2 linked regions of the Homo sapiens genome follow. The protein of the gene in region 1 purifies or fractionates together with the protein of each later gene. This does not show direct contact. Each region holds a gene or a part of one and is shown on either strand. Other genes may lie near its edges.

The links.
Region 2: the proteins of KATNB1 (region 1) and ASPM purify together in Homo sapiens (tandem affinity purification; 2 studies listed by IntAct, with this or other methods). This does not show direct contact.

Annotation. Positions count from the first base shown.
Region 1 is NC_000016.10:57,745,479-57,752,769, forward strand, and holds part of KATNB1 (katanin p80 WD40 repeat-containing subunit B1), read left to right. Parts: intron 1-5,348; coding exon 5,349-5,449; intron 5,450-5,782; coding exon 5,783-5,824; intron 5,825-6,162; coding exon 6,163-6,246; intron 6,247-6,461; coding exon 6,462-6,577; intron 6,578-7,051; coding exon 7,052-7,123; intron 7,124-7,291.
Region 2 is NC_000001.11:197,083,626-197,087,959, reverse strand, and holds the end of ASPM (abnormal spindle-like microcephaly-associated protein), read left to right. Parts: intron 1-987; coding exon 988-1,157; intron 1,158-3,533; coding exon 3,534-3,636; 3' UTR 3,637-3,833; downstream 3,834-4,334. UniProt on the Homo sapiens protein: Involved in mitotic spindle regulation and coordination of mitotic processes.

The sequences.
Region 1 (7,291 bases):
CCTGAACCCGGGAGGTGGGGGTTGTGGTGAGCCAAGATCGCACCATTGCACTATAGCCTGGGCAACAAGAGCGAAACTCCATCTCAAAAAAAAAAAAAAAAGTTAACACATTAGTTATTCTCTTCCTACTGTAAAGGATGAGAATTTAGCTCTCTCATGGCACCACTCCCAGCCCCATGGCTCGTGTTTCTCCTCCCACCCTCCCAGTAGCACCATTTCAATAGGTGGTGTTTATAATGTAAGGACGCATAAGTGTCATTTACCACTGACTATTTCTTTTTAATAACTTGGTTTCCCTGGAGTTAATAATAGTTCCTTTTTTTTTTTAATCTGTGTGTTTTCTATGTCCATATTACTCATTCATCCCCAAATTCTCTGCCAGAAGAGTAAAGCTCCTCCTGTTTCTTTGAAACCCATCCCATAATCCAGGCGCCTTTTCTCAGAGCCTCTCCTCTGGTCCTAGTGACCTGCAGCCCAGCTGTCATCCTGGGCCTCTGTGTCTCTTCTCTGGGGAATTCTCTCCATCTGTTGTTCCTGGTCCCACGCCGCAACCTTTCTTGGTTTTCTCCCTCTTTTTGATGGAGCACATTCTTTTGTAGCTTTCTGAGAAAATGTGCTGGGAAGGCATAGTTTTGGAGAACTTCCATGGCTGAAAATGACTTTCTGCTACCCCCATCATTTGCTTTTGTGTTTGTTTTATGAGTTTGAGTATAGAGTTCTATGTTGGCAATAAAATATCGCCCTCAGAATTTGGAAGGTGCAGCTTTTCTGCCTTTTAGGTTCTAGGTTGCTATTGGGAGGGGCCGGTGTTGTTCTGATCCCAGATCCTTCACAGGGGACTGGCTTCATTCCATGTTCTGTCTCTTCCTTCCTCTCTCTCTCTCTTTTCTTTCCTCTCTCTCTCTGTCTCTGCAGGCTTTTAGGGTCTTTGTCCCAGTGTTCTGGTGTGGTGAGCCTTGGGGTGGGTCTGCTTCCACCCTGTGCTAGGTCGTCACTGGTTTCATGCGGTTGTGGTCTGGAAACTCATGCCCTCAGTTCTGGGCTGAGCGGAGAGTCTCGCCCACTGCTCCTGTGCTGTGCCTCGGTGCCTTAGCAGGTGGTGCCAGCTCTACGGATTTTTCAAGAGAGGCTGGAAATCTGGAAATTCATGTGCCTTGGTGCCTTAGCAGGTGGTGCCAGCTCTACGGATTTTTCAAGAGAGGCTGGAAATCTGGAAATTCATGTGCCTTGGTGCCTTAGCAGGTGGTGCCAGCTCTACGGATTTTTCAAGAGAGGCTGGAAATCTGGAAATTCATGTGGAATCCACCCATTTAAAAATGTTGACAGCTCATTCAACATTTGTTTTAGAACACCATGCAGGCCAGCACTGTGAGGTCCAAATAAGACCCGTTTGCCTGATGCTTTTCTTTTCTTTTCTTTTTTTGAGACAGTGTCACTCTGTCACCCAGGCTGGAGTGCAGTGGTGTAATCTCAGCTCACTGCAACCTCTGTCTCCCAGGTTTAAGCGATTCTCCTGCCTCAGCCTCCTGAGTAGCTGAGACTACAGGCACGGACCACCATGTCCCGCTAATTTTTGTATTTTTAGTAGAGACGGGGTTTCTCCATGTTGGCCAGGCTGGTCTTGAACTCCTGACCTCAGGTGATCCGCCCACTTCAGCCTCCCAAAGTGCTGGGATTACAGGAATAAGCCACCATGCCTGGCCTGCCTGATGCTTTTTGATAGCCCTTGTTGGATCATCCCGCGTGCCAGGCAGGAGGCCACCTACCTGAAGCCCTGGAGAGGAAGCAGCAACGTGGATTTTGCCGAGGCTGCTTTTTCCAGAAGAGAGCCCCTCTGGCCTGGCTGAGACTTCAAGATTCTTCTGGGCCTCTCCTTGGTTCATGCTCTATGTTGGCGGCAGGGCAGCAGCCATGAGCCACACATGCACAGTGGCAAGGTTCCCTTTGCTCAGGAACAGTGGGCTCTCTGTGTAGGTGGTACTCAATAAAGATGCACGCAGCCTCTTCAGTGATGCTTGCCTACTCAGTGATGGTCAGTTTAAGAACAAAAGAGCCCCAGGACCTCTTTGATAACAAACAGGACTGCAGGCTTTGCGTCTCGGCACGTGATCGCACTGCCTGGCCACACCAGGGCATGCTGTGCTTGGTGTCGCTGAACTCAAGCGGGCCAGGGAGGAGTGAGTCCAGGATGGCTGGGCTCTCATGGAGAAGATGGGAAGGCTCAGGCAGAAGGTGGGCAGCTCCCTGGACCTGAATCCCAGCGCGTGGGCACCAGCCATTCAGTATTCACCGAAGAACAAGAGACAGAAGGGAGAAGCCGAGGGCGCCGTGCCCCCTGTCCAGGCTTTCTCATCCACAATTGTTTTGCTCACAGGGGAAATGTGAGGAATTCCTTGAGGTGGCTGAGAAATGAAAACTGAAGATTGCTGGATTCCTGGGCCCTGGACGGCCAGGGCTGGCTGCTCCACAAGGAACTCATTACGAACTCACGGCCCAGACTCCATCCTCAGAGAACCCGATTCAGTACTGGGGTGGGCCCAGGATCTGGATTTTAATAAGCTTCCAGGTGATTCCGATGGACAGCCAGGTTGACAGATGGGCAAACAGAGGCCCAGGGAGAGCACCGAGCTTAGGAAAACCCCAGTAGCTGCAGGTAGCAGAGCCTGGGACTTGAATCCCGGTGTCAGGACTCCCATCCCAGTGTTGTCTGTTCTGCCATTGGATGGAAGAGAAACTTGCCATCAGCACAGCAGGTAGAGCTAAGACCTCCGGCCCCCCTCCACACCCCCTCGCCAGAGTGCAGGTGACAGTGACAGACAGGCAAATTGAGGCCCCAGGTGTGGAAAGGTTCCAAAGAGAGCTGCTCTGCGGGCATGGTGGCTCACACCTGTAATCTCAGCACTTTGGGAGGCCAAGGCAGGAAGATCACTTGAGGCCATGAGTTTAAGACTAACCTGGGCAACAAAAGGAGACCCCATCTCTATTTTTTTAAAAAAAAAAAAAAAAAGGAGAGAGAGAGAGCTGCCTCATATCGGTTGCCTTGAAAGGCCACCCATCACTGGAGGGTTCAGATGTAGGCTGAGGAGGTGCTCAGCTGGGAGGCGTTGGGGGTTCCTGTGTGGGGCAGACAGACCCCGGAAGCCCCTCCACTCTGCAGTTCCTAGATCCCATGATTGAATGTAGGCATCAGAGGCCTTCGTGGGACAGAAGAGCAAGGGCAGGAGTCAAGCCGGAAGAATGTGGTCCTGCCTGCTTTCCACAGCGCAGCCAGAGGGCAAGGGTAGCTCAGCGCAGGGGATCCCACGGGATCTCACAGGAGGGCGGCCGGTGCTTCATGCAGCCAGCCCACACAGGGTGGGACTCCGCCACATCCTCTCTGGGCAGGGCAGGATTTTGGAAGCCTTGCTGTGGGATCCAAGCTGAGTGGGCTGGGAGCGGGTGTGGACTGGAGCAAGAGCCAGCGTGGCCTCCTTGGCCAGGAGGCAATGCCCAGCCCCCAGCAGCACCTGATAGCTACACGGAGCAAGGAGTGACAGCTGCAGAGATTCTGGTGCAGGTGAATTGGATATGCATTCGACAGACTCCAGAGGGATGTGAAAGTATCCAGACCCAGCTCCAGCGCCAGACAGGGCCAGCTGCAGAGGGGCACTGAGGCCTGGGGAGGAGGAGAGAAGGCCCAGCTTGCGGGACAGCCAAGAGCAGAAGGCAGGCCTTGTGCAGGAAGAAATGTGAATGGGACTAATTAAGACTGGCATTTATTGAGCACTTACCATGTGCAGAGCCCGTGCTAAGCACTTTATGTATGTTTACTCCATTCTGTGACCCAACATGAGGCCCAAAGACAGTAAGTGATTGGCCAGGGTCACACCACCAGTGAGGAGCGGAGCCAAGGCTGATCCCAGTATTGTCTGATGCCAGAGCCCACATCCTGACTTTGGGGGTAGAGAAGATCATACAGTAGAGTTCATTTAATTCACCCAGTGCTTGGATCTTGACTCTGCAGTAAAGTGTTATATATGGAATCTTGAATACCTCCTCTGACAGAGAGCTCACTACCTCACAAGGTGACCTATTGCACCTTGGCTCAAAACTAAGAATGGCTGGACTCCCACATTTCCTGACCCTGGCACTTGGGATGGTCAGTTTCATTCAGATAGTGAATTATGAATCTTTCCAAAAGCAGGAAACATGAGACAAATCTGAGTGGTACTGGAGGACACCCTGAAACACACAAGGTTTGCCTCCAGGCTGGGCCGCTCCTGGCCATGGAGATGCCTGCAAAACCTTCAAGGAAAGGATAGGAGATGTGGTTCCTAGGGCAGTGGGAGGCGATCAGGCCCCACCCCAGGAGTTCTTTGGTCCTCGCGTGTCCTCCCTGTGTCCTCTCAGTTCTCACTGCTCCTCAGTGTGTCCTCACAGCCACCCTCAAGATCCCTTGGACAGAGGTCACCCAAGAAGACTGGTGTGTGCACCAGGGCCACCCCAGCCATGCCCTCCACTTGCCCTTCTTAGGGCCTTTGCCCATCACCTCCATCTACCTAACAGCATCCCTCATCCTCCACCCACTGACATCTACTCAAATACCACCTCCTCCATAAAGCCTTCCTGGATTTCTCTTTCCAACCAAGCAGCTTCTCTCCCAGCTTGAACCTCTCCTGGTCTGTCTCTCTCCTTGCACTGTCTTGGGTGGGGTTCAGTGCCCTGCAAACCATAAGCTCCACACCCATGGGGCCTGAACTGAGTGTGGTGGTTCCCTGGTTCTGCTTCCGCTGGAGCACAGTCTGTGGGGAGAGTGTGGTACAATTTCTGCAGACTTGAGGTAACATAGGGCTGTCACCTCTCAAGAGAAATGTGGGAAAATTAGTTGTTGGCAGGACGCAGTGGCTCACACCTGTAATACCAGCGCTTTGGGAGGCCAAGGCGGGTGGATCACTTGAGGTCAGGAGGCCAGCCCAGCCAACGTGGTGAAAACCTATCTCTACCAAAAATATAAAAAAATTAGCCGGGTGTGGTGGCACATGCTTGTAATCCCAGCTACCTGGGAGGCTGAGGCAGGAGAATTGCTTGAACCCGGGAGGCAGAGGTTGCAGTGAGCCGAGATCACGCCATTGCATTCCAGCCTGGGCGACAGAGCAAGACTCCTTTTCAAAAAAAAGGAAGAAAAGAAAATTCGTTGTTAGGGTGGTGGGACCCTTGATTGTTTCCTACTGTTTTAAAAATGTGTGTTATTGTTCTATTTTTCTGTGCAGCTAATCCAAAAGCGCACACACAAATGCCCACAGCAGCCCTTCCTCTGCCAGCCTTCTCATTTGCCTCTTAGCCACTGTCTCTGCTTTCCTTCTTGTTAGTTCTTCGCACACTCATGGGACACAAAGCCAACATCTGCAGCCTGGATTTCCACCCGTACGGCGAGTTTGTAGCCTCTGGTTCCCAGGACACAAACATCAAGGTGAGAGGCCGGTCCGTGCCCCGTGTCTCCTGCTGGGCCTGTGGCAGGACCAGCCCGGCCCGGCCCTCAGTGCTGGATGCCTGCTGAGGGGACCTCTTCCCTTTCTGCAGCCACATCCACACCATCCTAGGGAAAGCGGGTGGCAGGCATCTATCTGCCAGATGCTTCTGCTCAGAATGCCAGCTTTAGTGAGCAGTTTCTGTCCTTGTCTCCGTGGGGAGTAACGACCTAGAGAAGGCTGGGCCCCACCGTCTGCTCACGACTGCACACCTTCCTCCAGTCGTGGCTCTGACCTCTCCTGACTCTGCCCCTCTGCTTCTCTCTCCCCCACAGCTCTGGGACATCAGGAGGAAAGGCTGTGTCTTCCGATACAGGGTAAGGATGCGCTCTGTCGGTGACTCCATGAGCACCTTGCGGGCATTGAGTGTGGTGTGGTGCCCAGACCCCAGCAGGGGGTGGAGGGGACGGCTGTCCCACATGGGTGATAACATAAAACATAGACCTGGAGCTGAGCAGGAGCGCCATGGGCGGCCCACCTGGATCCCCTGGCTCTGCATGAATCCCCTAGAGCCACGTTCATCAAACTGCTCCAAGCAGAACCAGGCGGGTAACCAGTGTTGTTAGATGGAAGGGGTCCCATAGGAGTGAGGAGGCAGGGAGAGGTCTGTTGGGCCCAGGATCCCAGGGTGAGCTCATGCCGTGTCCTCCCTCAGGGGCACAGCCAGGCCGTGCGGTGTCTCCGGTTCAGCCCCGATGGGAAGTGGTTGGCGTCGGCCGCAGATGACCACACCGTGAAGGTAGCTCCCGGCCTGACCTGGGCCCAGGGGCTGGGGGCTGGGGTCTGCTGATCACAGCAGGCTGAGTCCTCACCTCCCTCCTGATCGGGCTCACATGTCCCAAGCCTATCCCGAGTGGAAGGTAGCTTGTGGATAAAGAGCTTGGCCTGGATTAGAGGGAGGGTGGGCAGCCAAGATGCCTGGTCACCCTGACCTCCTCCCTGCCCTGCCTCCAGCTCTGGGATCTCACTGCCGGCAAGATGATGTCTGAGTTCCCTGGTCACACGGGGCCTGTCAACGTGGTCGAGTTTCACCCCAACGAGTACCTCCTGGCCTCCGGCAGCTCTGACAGGTGAGGAGGAGGAGCGAGGCGAGTTGCTTGTGACTGCTGTCCTTCACCGCCTTGTCCTCTGTGCGTGTCTCTACTGCCGGTCTGTCGCTGTCTGGGGTGTCATACGTCTGATGATCCTGTGTGGACTGAATTGGATTTCAGCCGAGCCAGGACTGGACCCTGGTCCATCTCCCCTGGCTCTGGTTCCCTGGCCCCAGTGTCCCAGGTCTGTGGCTTCATGGGCAGGTTGGGACCCAAGGCATCTAGTGGGACCCCATAGGGCAGGGAGGCTCGTGGCTGTTGGGGCCAACCCTGGGGCCAGGGCCATCGGGCCGAGCCTCCCCCTTGCAAAGTCAGGGCCAGCTCTGCCCCAGATGTTGCTCCTGGTGGCCCTGCCCTGGGGGAGAGGTTTCTAGAGAAAAGCTGGCTTCCCAGGGACATGTGGAGGCCAGGATGAGGGATAGGCTTCGCAGCACAGCTTGGCTGCCTTTGCAGGACAATCCGCTTCTGGGACCTGGAGAAGTTCCAGGTGGTGAGCTGCATCGAAGGGGAGCCTGGGCCCGTCAGGTACGCAGGCTGTGGGGTGGGCGGCCCAGCGCTCCTCCCGGCAGTGGGGCGTGGCTGTGGGTGGGCCTTTCCCATCTCCGCTGCTGCGCCCTCCCTGCCCTGGGCCCTCTGGATTCCTCGGGGTGGGGACCAGGCTGGGTGCCACAGGACCCACGGCCATCTCTCGCC
Region 2 (4,334 bases), on another chromosome or scaffold:
ATCCTCCTGTTGTAACCATAATTGTATTTCAAGCTTTTCTACGATGAGACCTCTGAGTCATTCTTTTTAAGTGTCATAATTAACATGGGGAAACCATAGGCCATAATTGGACTGTGGCCTTTATCCTGGTAAGTGGGAACCGCTGCAGGGTAAAGCAAGGGAATAATATTTTCCAATTTAAATTTTAACAACACTCTGGCTTCTGATTGAAGAATGAATTTGGGAGAGCATGTGTGGATATAGTGAGACCATCAAAGAAGGTGGCAAGTGTTGATATGTAGTGATCTAGGCAAGAGATTGTGCTTGTCTTAGGATTGTGTCGCTGAGAGGTAAGTAGAAGACTTTGGAAACTGCAGAGGTAAACTTTTCAAGACTTGGTAACTGGATATGATAGGTGTGTTGACTATAATTGCTATGTTGACTATAATAATTCCTTCTTATATTCAGTGTGGAGTTAAGTATGCAACTTTTGAATATTTATCTTCCTTATAATTGCCTTGCAAATTAGCTCGTAATTTAAATCAATCTACCTGCCAAACTTGGTGAGGTTTCTTTGATTATTCAAAGCTTAAAAGTTTACTGCAGGCTGGGCACGGTGGCTCACGCCTGTAATCCCAGCACTTTGGGAGGCTGAGGTAGGCAGATCACGAGGTCAGGAGATTGAGACCATCCTGGCTCACACGGTGAAACTCCATCTCTACTAAAAATACAAAAAAAATTAGCCGGGTGTGGTGGCGGGTGCCTGTAATCCCAGCTACTTGGGAGACTGAGGCAGGAGAATGGCGTGAACCCGGGAGGCAGAGATTGCATTGAGCTAAGATCGCACCACTGCACTTCAGCCTGGGCGACAGAGCAAGAGAGACCATCTCAAAAAAGAAAAAAAAAAGGTTTACTGCATAGTTTTTATTATATTTGATTTTGCTAGTCTAAAAGAGATAAAATTTTAATTCTTATTACTTTTTAGTAACTGTGCATTTTATTTTGTAGGATGTACGAAGTAGGTCCAAAGTTGTTGACCGTATTTACAGTCTCTACAAACTTACAGCTCATAAACATAAAATGAATACTGAAAGAATACTTTACAAGCAAAAGAAGAATTCTTCTATAAGCATTCCTTTTATCCCAGAAACACCTGTAAGGACCAGAATAGTTTCAAGGTAAGCAATTAAATATAGTCCATAAATTTGTGTCACTGTTCATTCATTCATTTAACAAATATTTATTGAGCACTTACCATAAACAAGATGTGCTTTTCAGTGGAGAAACAACATATGAATAAGAATGGAATGTTTGGTAAATTTAAAAGAAGCAGTCTTGGTAAATAAAGAAATAACATTATACTGTAGCTTTGGACATTTAATAGTTATTCAACAAACTTCTTATATTAAATAGTTAAGAGCTAAGGCTAAGAAGCTTGTTATAAGTTTTGTCATTTTATTTTATTTATTTTATTTTGCATGAAAGACAAACTACACTGTTTAAGAAGTGCCAAAAGTCCTTCTTAGCCAAAATATCAACCTCCAGTCCTCCCATAATCACCCTGATTCTTGAAATTTCTCCTTCTGGAAATTTAGATTGACATTTTCTGATTTTATTGGCAAAAAGATTTAATTTATTTTGGTGAACCGTCATGGCATTTAATTAGTGTTTTTACTCCCTTCCTTCTTTCTCCCTCCTCCTTTTTTTCTTCCCCCTTCTCCCTCTCTCCCTCCCTTCCTTCCTTCTTTCCTTCTTGAGACTTAGCAATTCTCTATACTAGGTACAAATCCTACATTATTGACAACACACTATTTCTTGACCTGAGTGGTTACACAGCCATTAGCTTTATAATTATACTCATAATTATAAACTGTATAATGTAGTTATAAATTGGTTTTATGCATGCATATTTCACAGCATAATGTAAAGTTCATTTGCTTGAAATATATTAATGGGACCATTTCTACATGTTTTTTAAGGACTTGGTAGAATTTAATATTCATTATGTTTTAAAAGCTCATACTAACATATGAATGGATTCTCTTAAAATTTTGATGTAGGTCAGGCTTTTGAGGTAAAATTTACTGACAGTATAAATGCATCCTTTAAATGTATGCAATTCAATTCGTTTTGACAAATGTATACAGTTAGGAAACTACCACCACTGAGATACAAAATATTTCTGTAACACAAAGTTTCCTTATGCCCCTTTGTTGTCAGTTCTCTTTCTTTATTCCCTGGATTTTGGGAACTACTGATCTGATTTTTGTACCTTTAGTTTTGCCATTTCTATACTGTCACATATATGGAATCATATAGTAGATAGCTTTTTGTGACTGGATTCTTTTCCTTAGCATAATGCTTTTGAAATTCGTTCATGTTTATGCATGGATTTGAATTTCATTCCTTTCTATCACTTAGTACTATTCCATTGTATGGTCGTACCACACTTTGTTCACTCACCAATTGATATATCTTTGGATTTTTAGCAGGACAAAATAAGATGATGGAAATGCATATAGTAGGGAATTATGTGAGAAGATGCATGAACTCCCTCGGTTTGATACTATTTTCTCAATAAGTTTGAGATTATAAACTCAACAACTCAGAAGCAGCTCAGAGGGTATGGAGGGGAAGTTTGAAAAGAGGAAAGGACCAAGATAGTCATCTTGGAGAGAAAGGGAGCATGCTGGCAATTTCAAATGCTCATTTTAGATTTGTAATTATTGGCAAAAAATAAAATCAGCTTGGTTGTGTAAACATTTTTAGTAATATGCAGCTGTATAGGAATGGAGAAGGCAGATATTTTGACTCAATTTGAAATCCAAGTAGAATTCTTCAGACTAGTTTGGTAGGAGAGAGAGACAACAGTTAATGGCATTTGCAAAGGTTTTGATAATACTGATGCACCTGAGCTAGATACACAGGAAAGTAAGGACAGCATTCTGGTGGATGTTGGGTATGTGTTGAGGCCAAATGAAGTGGAGATCTCAGTGGGGTAGAAGAACTGGTTCAATGACTGTGTTAGAGCATATGACATGGATGAATCAGAAATGGTGGATGGAGAATGGAAGTCTCAAGATTTCAGTGGTCGCACACTTTCTGATGATGACAAAGTCTAGTATGTGATCATATTAAAAAGGATTGGTTGAGGTAGAATTGAAGGAAAGTGGGGCAAAAACGGACTAGGTTGTTGGCTTTTTGGCCACATAGATGTTGCTGTTGCTGAGAACGGTGACAGTAGGTAAGAGGAGAACAAGAACCAGGTTTACAAGGAATAAGACACTGAGAGTTTGGCTGATGACCAAAAGGCAGTGGTCAAGCTAAATAGCATAAGCTTCAAAGAAGCCAGCATTATTTTTTAGAAAGGATGGAGAGAAATAGTCTGGAACTAGTGATGGGCAATAATATGAAGTTCTCCCACCTCTTTGAGCAGTTTGTAAGGGAAATGATGTGTTCAGGAGTAGCTACAATTTAGTTAAGAGAAAAAAGGTGAAGGTAACTCTAAAGAGAAGAACTTTATTAATGCCAGACTTTTTTTTTTTTTTTAACAGACTTAAGCCAGATTGGGTTTTGAGAAGAGATAACATGGAAGAAATCACAAATCCCCTGCAAGCTATTCAAATGGTGATGGATACGCTTGGCATTCCTTATTAGTAAATGTAAACATTTTCAGTATGTATAGTGTAAAGAAATATTAAAGCCAATCATGAGTACGTAAAGTGATTTTTGCTCTCCGTGTACAACTTTTAAAATCTGACTTTGTTTTAAAAAAACATAAACTGTTCATTACATTCTTCATTTTTATCATTTATAGTTTTATGCATGTAATAAACTAATATGTCATAAGATGATTATATTATTCCTGTCTATTATCTTAAAGTATTATAGTAGTTTCAATGTAATCTTATTACTAAAAGGAAATAATAGCTGATTACACCTTTTTTATAGGTAAGTTGAGGAATTTTCATAAAACAAATGTTAGAAATTGAAGTTCTGTCTACTCACTAAGAAGTGAGACTAGGATAAAATAATCTCACAAATTCATATCAATGGCATCCTTATCTATATCCTTGACTGGCTAAAGCATCCAGATAAGCAAGTGAGCCCTTCTAGGCTCACAAAAAGAATACACCCACCACTGTATTTACTAAAAATTCTTACCATTGAACTGATGGGGGTTATAATTTGAAGTGGAAGGAACATGCTATTGCTTATAATAGAATCTTGTTGTGTAGTTATACACCACAGACCTGAAAATGATTCAGTATTGAAATGTGATTTTTTTTCTACTCTTTGAGTCACTATTACTAGTATCTGTGGTTTCAGGGCCACAGATGTCTAATTCTTATGGC